Regions from separate parts of the Homo sapiens genome. Here region 1 is linked to region 2. The links come from fine-mapping of genetic effects on gene expression. A gene starts in region 2. The other region holds a variant in brackets. All regions are shown on one strand. Distances are between the middles of the regions.

What was found.
Region 1: its variant is fine-mapped to the expression of LINC03052 in whole blood (TOPMed, PIP above 0.99).

The regions. Positions count from the first base shown.
Region 1 is chr2:95,123,185-95,128,561 of GRCh38, forward strand. It overlaps a transcript of ZNF514 not described here. Among named protein-coding and RNA genes, the nearest start is that of MRPS5, 4.1 kb to the left of the region's middle. The variant T/C (reference allele first, on the strand shown) is at 2,213.
Region 2 is chr2:95,523,931-95,529,307 of GRCh38, forward strand. LINC03052 (long intergenic non-protein coding RNA 3052) reads right to left here and starts at 2,824. Exons shown (of 1, transcript NR_182300.1): 1 at 943-2,824. It also overlaps the pseudogene ANKRD33BP1. RefSeq lists a silencer at 2,804-3,093 and an enhancer at 3,234-3,363.

The DNA of each region.
Region 1 (5,377 bases), 400 kb before region 2:
TCTATCCACCTCATTAAAATCCTCTGTGGAGGTCGCCCTTTGATAAGCACTCATGTGGGAAATAATTATCTTCACATTCTGGGCTGAAGTCCATCCACATACCTGTTTCCTAGACCTCTTTGTCACCAACTTCCTAATTATGTTCCTCTCAAGTACTGACCATCCAGCCAAGTCATTAGCCACTGCTCATGAAAAAGTATAGATCTATACTTCTAACCAGGCAAAATGAACAACCAGGCACATTACTCTTATCTTCTTCCCACTGGGAGGATTTCCCTTCACCGCCGTCCTTCAGAAGCATCCCAGAGTGGGATTGCAGTACTGCAGCTGTCCACTTTCAGGTGATACCAACAGATCATGCAGAACCATGAGTAAACCAAGCCCAAGAGTTTTCTTCTTCAGGCAACTGGTCACAGGTAATTCCTCATGAAGCTGTGGGTAGGGGTTGAGAGAGAGAAGATCATGTAGCTTGCATGTTCAGGTCCTGCTCCAGTTCAGTTTCATATGTACCACTTCCATTCGATGATGGAGTGTTGCTGTGCACACACAACTTTATGGCTTGGTGATCATACAACAGCCAGTTCATGATGAGCAGCTTAAACTGCATGGTAAGTTGCTGGTCAATGGTCAAGCCTCCAGACTCTGTTAAGGCCCAAAGCAAGTTTTGATTACTTAGTCGTTTGTTTCTAACTTTTAAATTTGAAATAATTACAGATTCAAAGATACAGATAGGAAGTTGCAAAAATAGTACAGAGAGGTCCCATGTATCCTTTACTCAGTTTCCCCAAATGGTACATCTTACATAACTATAGTACAACATCAAAACCAGGAAGCTGACATCGGTACAATCCATAGATTTTATGAGTTTTACATACACTCATTTGTGTATGTGTGTGTAGTTCTATGCAGTTGTGTCACATGTAGATTTCTGTATCCAGCACCACAATCGAGATACAGAACTGTTCTATCTCCAAGATCACCTGTGCATCTCCCTTCGAGTCAAACCCACCCCCTCTTTTATCCTCTCCTCCACCATCTTTAACCTTTGGCAACCACTAATCTGTTTCTCATCTCTATAATTTTATCATTTTAAGAACATTATATAAATGGAATCAGATAATACATGATCTCATGACTGGCTTTTTTTCACTCAGCATAATACCCTTGACGTCTATCCAAGTAGTTCCATGTACCAATAGTTTCTTCCTTTACATTGCTGAGTAGTATTCCATGGCACTAACATTTGTTTAACCATTCACCCATTGTAGGACATTTAGTTTGTCTCATATTATTATTTTTATTTTTATTTTCCTTTTCCTTTTCTTTTTTTCCTTAAGACAGAGTCTCGCTCTGTCACCCAGGCTGGAGTGCAGTGGCATAGTCTCAGCTCACTGCAACCTCCGTCTCCTGGGTTCAGGCGATTCTCGTGCCTCAGTCTCCTGATTAGCTGGGATTACAGGCGTGTCCCATTACACTCAGCTAATTTTTTGTATTTTTAGTAGAGACGGGGTTCCACCATGTTGGCCAGGCTGGTCTCAAACTCCTGGCCTTTAAGCAATCCACCCACCTCAGCCTCCCAAAATGCTGGGATTACAGGCGTGAGCCACTGCACCCAGGCTGTCTTCAGTTATTAACTATTTCAAACAAAGCTGCCATCAACATTCATGTATGTGATTTTTTGATATTTAGAAATTTTATTTTATTTTTATTTTTTTGAGACAGAGTCTCACTCTGTCGCCCAGGCTGGAGTGCAATAGCGCGATCTCGGCTCACTGCAAACTCCCCCTCCCAGGTTCAAGCGATTCTCCTGCCTCACCCTCCTGAGTAGCTAGGTAGAGGCCTGTGCCACCATGCCCAGCTAATTTTTGTATTTTTGTAGAGACAGCATTTCACCATGTTGCCCAGGCTGGTCTCAAACTCCTGACCTCAAGCGATCCGCCCACCTCAGACTCCCAAAGTGCTGGGATTACAGGCATGAGCCACTGTGCCCAGCCAGAAATTTTAAAATTGTGGTAAAATACACATAACATAAAAATTGCCATCCTTTTTTTTTTTTTTTTTTGAGACGGAGTCTCGCGTCGCGTCTCGCTCTGTCGCCCAGGCTGGAGTATAGTGGCATGATCTCAGCTCACTGCAACCTCCGCCTCCTGGGTTCAAGCGATTCTCCTGCCTCAGCCTCCTGAGTAGCTGGGACTACAGGCGCCCACCACCA[T/C]GCCCAGCTAATTTTTGTATTTTTAGTAGAGACAGGTTTCACCATGTTAGCCAGGATGGTCTCGATCTCTTGACCTTGTGATTCACCCACCTTGGCCTCCCAAAGTGCTGGGATTATAGGCGTGAGCCACCACACCTGGACCATCTTAATCATTTTTAAGTGTACAATTCAGTGGCATTAAGTACATTCACGTTGTTGTGCTACCATCACCACCATCTATCCACAGAAGTCTTTTATCTTTCAAAACTGAAACTGCAGCCATTAAACAATAACTCCCCATTCCCCTCTCCCTTCATGTAAGTGCAGTTATATAGTATTGTCCTTTTGTGACTGGCTTATTTCACTTAGCATGTTGTTCTCAAGGTTCATCCAGGTATAGCGTGTGCCAGAATGTCCTTACTTTTAATATTATGAATAATATTCCATTGTATGAATAGATCATATTTTATTATCCATTCATCTGTCAATGGACACTTGGGTTGCTTTCACCTTTTGGCTATTGTGAATAATGCTGCTGTGAACATGAGTGTGCAGATAATCTCTTCAAATCTCTGCTTTCAATTATTTTGAAATATATCCATCATGTACATGATTTTGTGTGGCTATAAGTTTTAATTTGGGGGGATAAATGTCAAGCTGTGAGATTATTAGATTGTGTGGTAAGTATATGTTTAGTTTTTAAAGAAACTGCCAGCCGGGCATGGTGGCTCACGCCTGTAATCCCAGCACTTTGGGAGGCCAAGGTGGGTGGATCATCTGAGGTCAGGAGTTAGAAACCAGCCTGGCTAACATGGTGAAACCCCATCTCTACTAAAAATACAAAAATTAGCCAGGTGTAGTGGCGCACACTTGTAATCCCAGCTACTCAGGAGGCTGAGGCAGGAGAATCACCTGAACCCAGGAGGTAGAGGTTTCAGTGAGCCGAGATTGAGCCATTGCACTCCAGCCTGGGCAACAAGAGTGAAACTCCATCTCAAAAAAAAAAAAAAAAAAAAAAAAGAAAGAAAGAAAGAAAGGAAGAAAAAAAGAAAGAAACTGCCAAACTACTTTCCAAAGTGGCCATTCCATTTTATATTCCTGCCAGCAATATGTGAAAGATCTAGTTTCTCTGTATCCTCACTAACATTCAGTGTTATCCCCATTTTTTTTAGCTGCTCTCATAGGTATGGTGACATATCATCATGGTTTTAATTTACATTTCCCTAATAGCTAATGATGTTGAATTTCTTTTCATGTGCTTCTAGAATTGCCATCTGTATACCCTCTTGAGTAAAATGTCTTTTGCTCATTTTCTAGTTGGATTGTTTGGTTTCTTTCACTGCTGTGTTTTGAGAATTCTTTGTATATTCTACATGTGAGCCCATTTTCTTTTTTTTTCTTTTCTTTTTTCTTGGAAACAGGATCTTGCTGTATCGCCCAGGCTGAGTGTACTGGCACTATCATAACTCAATGCAGCCTCACACTCCTGGCCTCAAGCAATCCTCCTGCCTTGGCCTCCCATAGCTACAGGAATAACCACGGGATGGGTTCTGGGACCTATTGCGCCCACCGTGAGACAGACCTGACCTAAAACTCCACCAATCACCTGATCTCTTTATGCCTCTGCTCTGACAGGTCACTGTGACATTTCGGGTCTCCAGGAATTGGTGTCAGCTCAGAGGCAGTGTTGAGTAATCCTTAAAACATCTGGATATTTCTCTGTCCTTGATGCATAGTCACCCTGGTAAATGGCTACAAGTACCTTTGGGGAAGGCTGAAAGGAAGATTAGCTGTACGTTTTTGGTAGTGTACCAATGCCTTTCCTGAGAGGGGACCCAGCCTGCCCTTCACTCGAGGGACTCTGGATCTGTGAATTCACTCAAGTCTGGGAATTGATTGAGGAGACATGACTCCCTCTTTTGGTGATTCAAGTCAGACTTCTGTTCACTAGGCCTAGATCTTTTCTGCCTATACAAATCCAGTAAGACTTCAGTAGGTTCTCCATCTCTTTTATTTCCAGAAACACCAAAGGTCAACACCAAAGGTCCTAGTGAGCCTGGCCATTCTGATGATTGTGTTTGTTCTACTGTCTATATGGTAACCATACCCAACTTCTGTTCAGTGATTAAGTGCCACCACATAGTGCCTGTCACCTCACTATCTTCATTGTGTTTAGTGTTTTTTGGTTGTTTTGTTTTTGTTTTTGTTTTTTTGTTTTTGTTTTTGTTTTTTTGTTTTTTGTGTTTTGTGTTGTTTTTTGAGACAGAGATTTGCTCTTATTGCCCAGGCTGTAGTGCAGTGGCATGATCGCAGCTCACTGCAGCCTCCGCCTTAGTGGTTCTCCTGCCTTAGCCTCACAAGTAGCTGGGATTACAGGTGCCTGCCACCACGCCCGGCTAATTTTTATATTTTTAGTAGAGACAGGATTTTAGCCTGTTGGCCAGGCTGGCCTTGAACTCCTGAACTCAGGTAAGCCACCTGCCTCGGCCTCCCAAAGTGCTGGGATCACAGGCGTGAGACACCGCACCCGGCCTAGTGTTTTAGTTTGATGGTAGCTGTTCCCTCTATATTTTTGACCTAAAGAGCCATGGCCACATGCAGTGGCTCACACCTGTAATCCCAACACTTTGGGAAGCTGAAGTGGAAGGATCACTTGAGTCTGGGAGTTCAAGACCAGCCCTGGACAACACAGTGAGACCCCACCTCTACAAAAAGTTTTTAAAATAAAAAATTAGGGCTGGGCGTGATGGCTCACGCCTGTAATCCCAGCACTTGGGGAGGCCGAGATGGGCGGATTGCCTGAGGTCAGCAGTTCAAGACCAGCCTGGCCAACACAGTGAAACCTCATCTCTACTAAAAATATAAAAAGCCAGGCATGGTGGCAGGTGCCTGTAATCCCAGCTACTCAGGAGGCTGAGGCAGGAGAATCACTTGAACCTGGGAGGTGAAGGTTGCAGTGAGCTGAGATCCCACCGTTGCACTCCAGCCTGGGCGACACGAGCAAGGCTTCGTCTCAAAAAAAAAAAAAAAAAACAGCTGGGCATGGTGGTGTGTCCCTGTAATCCCAGCTACTTGAGAGCTGAGGCAGGAGAATTGCTTGAACCCAGGAGGCGGAGGTTGCAGTGAGCCAAGATCGAACCACTGCACTCCAGCCTGGGCGACAGAGTGAGACTCCGTCTCAAGAAA
Region 2 (5,377 bases):
GCTTGTCCTCTAGTACTTACATCTATAAAACAAATAAGACAGTTATAAGGAGGCTCTAAGAAAAACAATTTTTTCTCATTCTGGACTTTGAGGTCTTAATTCTTTAAACTAATTTTCTGTCTCAATAGTGGATATCACCCTGAAACTTAATTTGTCCAAACACCTCACATAATCTGAAATTTTACAAAACATAAAGTTCATAGGATCAATACATTCTTGTGCCTTAAGTCTCCAGGCATTCAAGGATACTATTATGTGGAAACTCAGGCCTTCTACTGCATTATTGAAGGAGCACATTTGAGACTCACAGCACTTGTTGCTGTTAACAGGTCTGGACAATGAGTGATGTCAGTCCAGATAATTCTGAGGAAGGCTTTCTGCCTTGTTATAAGGAGGATAATCACTGGAGACTCTAGACAAGTTCCCAGTCATCATTCCAGCGTTTAGTTGCTGTTTTTGTAATCTCAGCATTTTTGGAGGCCAAGGCAGGTGGATCACTTTAGGTCAAGAGTTCAAGACTGGCCTGTTCAACATGGTAAAACTTTGTCTTTACCTAAAATACAAAAATTAGCGGGGCATGGTGGTGCACACCTGCAATCCCAGCTACTATGGAGGCTGAGGCAGGATAATCACTTGAACCAAGGAGGCAAAGATAGCAGTGAACCGAGATCATGCCACTGCACTCTAGCCTCGGTGACAGACTGAGACTCTGTCTCAATAAATAAATAAATAAATAAAATCACCTCTTGCATGGAGGGTGAATAAGGAGTATAACATGAGGACGTGTGAGGAAAATATGCATTAGAAGGGAAGGAGAACATACTTAACATGCCAGTGGAAGGTGAAATTCTAAATTATCTGAGAATATTTTTGAGAACTTTGTTTAATTCTCAGTGTAGAAAGATGTACCCTTTGAATGACATTAAAAATTCACTAGAAGAGTGAATAGTTAAAATGTCACATAAGTAACAAGAGTCTCAAAACAAAAAGTGTTCTAAAAGTTTAAAGTCCGTATTTGAGATAGAGGAGAGAATAAATAATAGTTCATTAATTAGTCTTTATTATGTGAAAAGACTTTTCTAAAATTCTTCCATAATAATTGAAGATATAAATTACAATAATTAAAATTTACAAAAGAATAAAAGCATTAAAATAAAGTGTGAAAAATTTAAAAAGGGTAAAGATGAAAATTATTTAATTTTTAATCTCAAAAATCCGAAAGTGATTTTATCAATGTCCTAAGAAAATTAAAATGAAAACAAACTTAATAATGTAAAGAAAGGAGGTTTCTGCCGGGCTGGGGGCGGGAGCTACGGCTTCTCTGGGGACGCGGAAGCGAGAAGCAGGGACCTTGGGGCGCGCCCGGTTTTCCGGGACGGTGCCCCGGCCCCCAGCCCACGCCTCCGGCCGCTGGCATGGTGCTGCTGGCTGGGACCCGGCCGCAGGGTGGCTGGGAGCGCTGCATGACCCCGCCACCGCCGTCCCCACTCCTAGGCGCACAGGTCGAGGAGGACCGCGCTGACTACAAAGAGTTCCAGGGCCCCACACCTGCAGCATAGCCTGGGACGACTCTGTACCCTTTCCAGGACGAGGAGGAGCACGGCGTCGAGGGCTTGGAGAGCGTCCCGGAGGAGGGCGTCCAGGAGGCATGGGGCTGCTGCGGACGCTGGTGCGGCGAGGGGTGAGCGTTGAGAAGGCGCAGGAGACTGACCACAATGGCTGGACCAGCCTTAATGTCGCCTGCTACCACGGCTTTGTGGATATACCGTGGTGGCCTTAGCTGAGTAACCCCACACTGACGTCAACTGGCAGGACAGGGAGGGGAACGCAGCCCTAAATACAGCTGCACAGGCAGGAGCTGCCTCTGGCCCCATGGGCACCGTTGCCTTGGACACTGGCTCTCAGCCTTGTGCTTCCTGGTCAGCATCACGTGGGCTGGTTCATTTGAGCTTTAACACAGATCTGGTGGAAACACAGGCTGCCAGGCCCTGCCCCTGGAGTCTTTCTTTGAATAGGCCTGGGGTGGGGCCCAAGAATGAGCAGAAGAACAGGTTTCCTGGTGAGGCTGATGCCGCTGGCCCAGGGTTCTCACGTTGAGGACCGAGAGCTTTGAGGTTTTCATACCTGATGATGTCCAGGAACCCTTCTCAGTAGGCACTGAAGACCATCAGCAGAATCACAGACCCCAGGAGAGATGTCGTCAGACAGACACAGAGGCATCACCGAATTAAAGTGAAAATGAAGAAAGGAGCTGAGCATCTGTTTCATGACTTTCGTGGCTGTTTTACTAAAGAGGCTATCCTGGCCCAGTCAGGGCACGCTATCATCACCAACTACTTGTTGAACTACGTTCAGGGTCTTGATCTTGAAGGAGGGACGCGTTCGGGTTGAAAGCCGCCATGCAGGGTCGAACGGATCGCATCGGAGCCCTGAGCTAGCAGGGGCGGGTGTCCACGCGAGGGCCCCCGCCGTGGGATGTCGCCAGAGGAGTGGCCACTTATACGTCCGCCTCATGCAGAGGCTCCTGGAGCGCCCCTGCCGGGAGCTGTTGGGGAAAAAGTACCAGCTTGAGCTGCCGCCGCTCCCCGAGAGGCCGCAAAAGCCCGAGGGCTCCAAGAACTGCCTGCAGAGGCTCAGGGACTGCGAGCTGTCCGCGCTGACGCCGCGCTCCATGCGGGGCCCAGAGGACCGGGGCGCCCTGGACCACATGGTCAGGATGACCACGAGCCTCTAACAGCCCCGCCGGGGCCCTCGCGTGCCAGACTATGTGCCCCGAGAGCACCTTGTGCTGGGGGAAGAGGCGGCTGGCGGTGCAGGAAATCCTGGCGGCGCAGGAAATTCCGGCGGCGCGGCGAGGGGTGGGGGGAGGCAGGCGCAGGAGGCGGGCGAAGAGGAGGGCGCAGAGTAGCATAAGCCGCTCGGCCTAGCGGCCGCTGGCTCCACAAAGGCCTCCCCAAGAGCCGGCCTCCCACCTGCCCGGCTGCCGGGGTCCTGGGGCTCCGCCGCCCCCGCCCCGCGGACGGCCAGCCTCCTGCCCCTGCAGTGCCTGCAGCAGAGCAGCTTGGGGCCCAGCGTGGTGGTGCCCAGGTCCGCCTCAGCAAGGTGCCCGCGCCCACCTTCCAACCCAAAAGGCCGGCGCGGAAGGGCAGCATAAAGGCAGCGGCCACCTGCGGATACCCAAGTGGCCTTACAAGGTGGCCAAGGAGGAGAAACGGGAGGCGGAGGAGGCCGAGAAGAGGCGCCAGGCCAAGGTGCAGGAGAAGCGCCCGCCGCCCTGGAAGAAGAGGACGTGAGAGTCCGCGGGTGCTTGGCACGGGGTTTGAGGGCTGGGTGAGGCCGCGGGGCTGGGCACCATGGCAGCTCTCGGGACCACCGGGCAGCGCGCGTTTCCACGCTGTCTCTCTAGGATGCTCCCAGAAAGGGGCTGGGGGAGCCACATCGATTCGCTTCACACCAGCCACCCTAGCAATCAGTACACCTAGGGGGCATGTTCCCTAAAAGGCTCCCTTTAGAGAACCTCAATTAAGATTTTTTTAAAGATTAATTTATTAGGCCAGGCGCGGTGGCTCACGCCTGTAATCCCAGCACTTTGGGAGGCCGAGGCGGGCGGATCACCTGAGGTTAGGAGTTTGAGACTAGCCTGACCAACATGGAGAAACCCCATCTCTACTAAAAATACAAAATTAGCCGGGCGTGGTGGCACATGCCTGTAATCCCAACTACTCGGGAGGCTGAGGCAGGAGAATCGCTTGAACCCTGGAGGCAGAGGTGGCAGGGAGCCAAGATGGCGCCATTGCACTTCAGCCTAGGCAACAAGAGCCAAACTCCGTCTCAATTAAAAAAAAATCAATTTATTAAAGGATATTTTCTGTGTAATTTTGTATTTTTAATTGTTGTCCAATTTGCCAAGTTTTACAAGTGATAGGGTCCCTTGTATCCAAGGAAGTTTTTATACACTTACCTGAAGACCTTTTATTTAAAACACTGTTTCCAGCAATAAATATTTATGATATCTGTAGGACTTTACACAGAAATCATGGGATTCTCTCCTTTTTGGGCTGTTTGCTTTGGTCTTCTCATCATGGGTGGATGTTTTTATTAATTAGATTAAGTGATGCCGGATATTTCTATTTGATGGAGGGATTGACTGGTTCAGCCACATGATCAAGTGAGACAGAGAGATCAGATTTTATTGTATCTTTTTAAAAAGTATTATCCAATACAGTCATATATTGAGGAAAAACATTTATCGTCAAATTATAAAACAATGCAGAGATAGGCATGTCTGTATTGCTAGAATTAAACTCATTTTAAGCAAGGAGTTTTAGATAAACTGTATACAAAAATCTTTAACATATTAAAATAGACATGAGAAAAATGTGTCATTTGATAAAATGGGGGAAATGTAATAAATGATTACCAGAAATATAAAATTAAGCCGTATATGCTCTTAAGTAAATCGAATCTAGGCATCCTTAAAATGTAAAAAAGGATGCAACAAGAGTAAGGAGCCCAGAATGATGTAAATTACAGGAATGGGGTGTAATGTAACCTCTAGAGGAGGTGATGTTTAGAAGAAGCAAAGAGAATGCAATGAGAAGCAAACTTGTTTTAGGCAAATTCTCCTGGAGTGGACCAGGCAGCCCCCTCTTCCAGACTCAGTTCCAGAGATTCCCTTATGTGGGTATTTGTTTTATTATTCCTTTGAGGACTGCATTTGGTGTTTAGTTCATCCTCATGTGGACCCTATGGAATTTCCAAGATGCGGGGCCTTAGCACTGTGGCACCTTCCTGCCACACGTACATAATTCACAGCATTACCAAGTCACCACAAGCCCCACGCTCACCTCTGTCAGCCCAGGACCCAGCCAGGCAGTGCCACGTGGTCTCCCAGGCTCGCTTCTCCAAGCCGAACTGCGAAAGTTATTGAGGCACTGGCCCAGGGAACTGAGCCTTGGGCCTGTCCTAAAGCTCCATAGGTGACTGCACTGCAGCCCACATGGAGAGCTGCAGCTCTAACACAGGGATTTTGAGAGGCCTCAGTGCCATTTAAGTGGCACTTCCAGGACACCCATCCTGAGCTCCCACAAAGGGCGCCACCTTCCCAAGAACGTCTAATTGTCATTGGAACAGCCAGTGTCAGGCAGCTTCTGCTCAGGCTGATGTGGCGTCTGACCCTTGGTGGGTTGCCAGACATTCCTTCCTGTTTCTGCCATGGGAAGTTGGCACTGGGAATGGTATGGAGCCCCCACTTCTACCCTGAGCCTTGGGTGTCTGCTGCTTCCAGGTGAAAAATGGACATTTCTGATACTGCCCAGCCACTACGGCACCACAACCCATGCTCATAGTCTCCAGGGATGTGTAGAACGGCAATGGC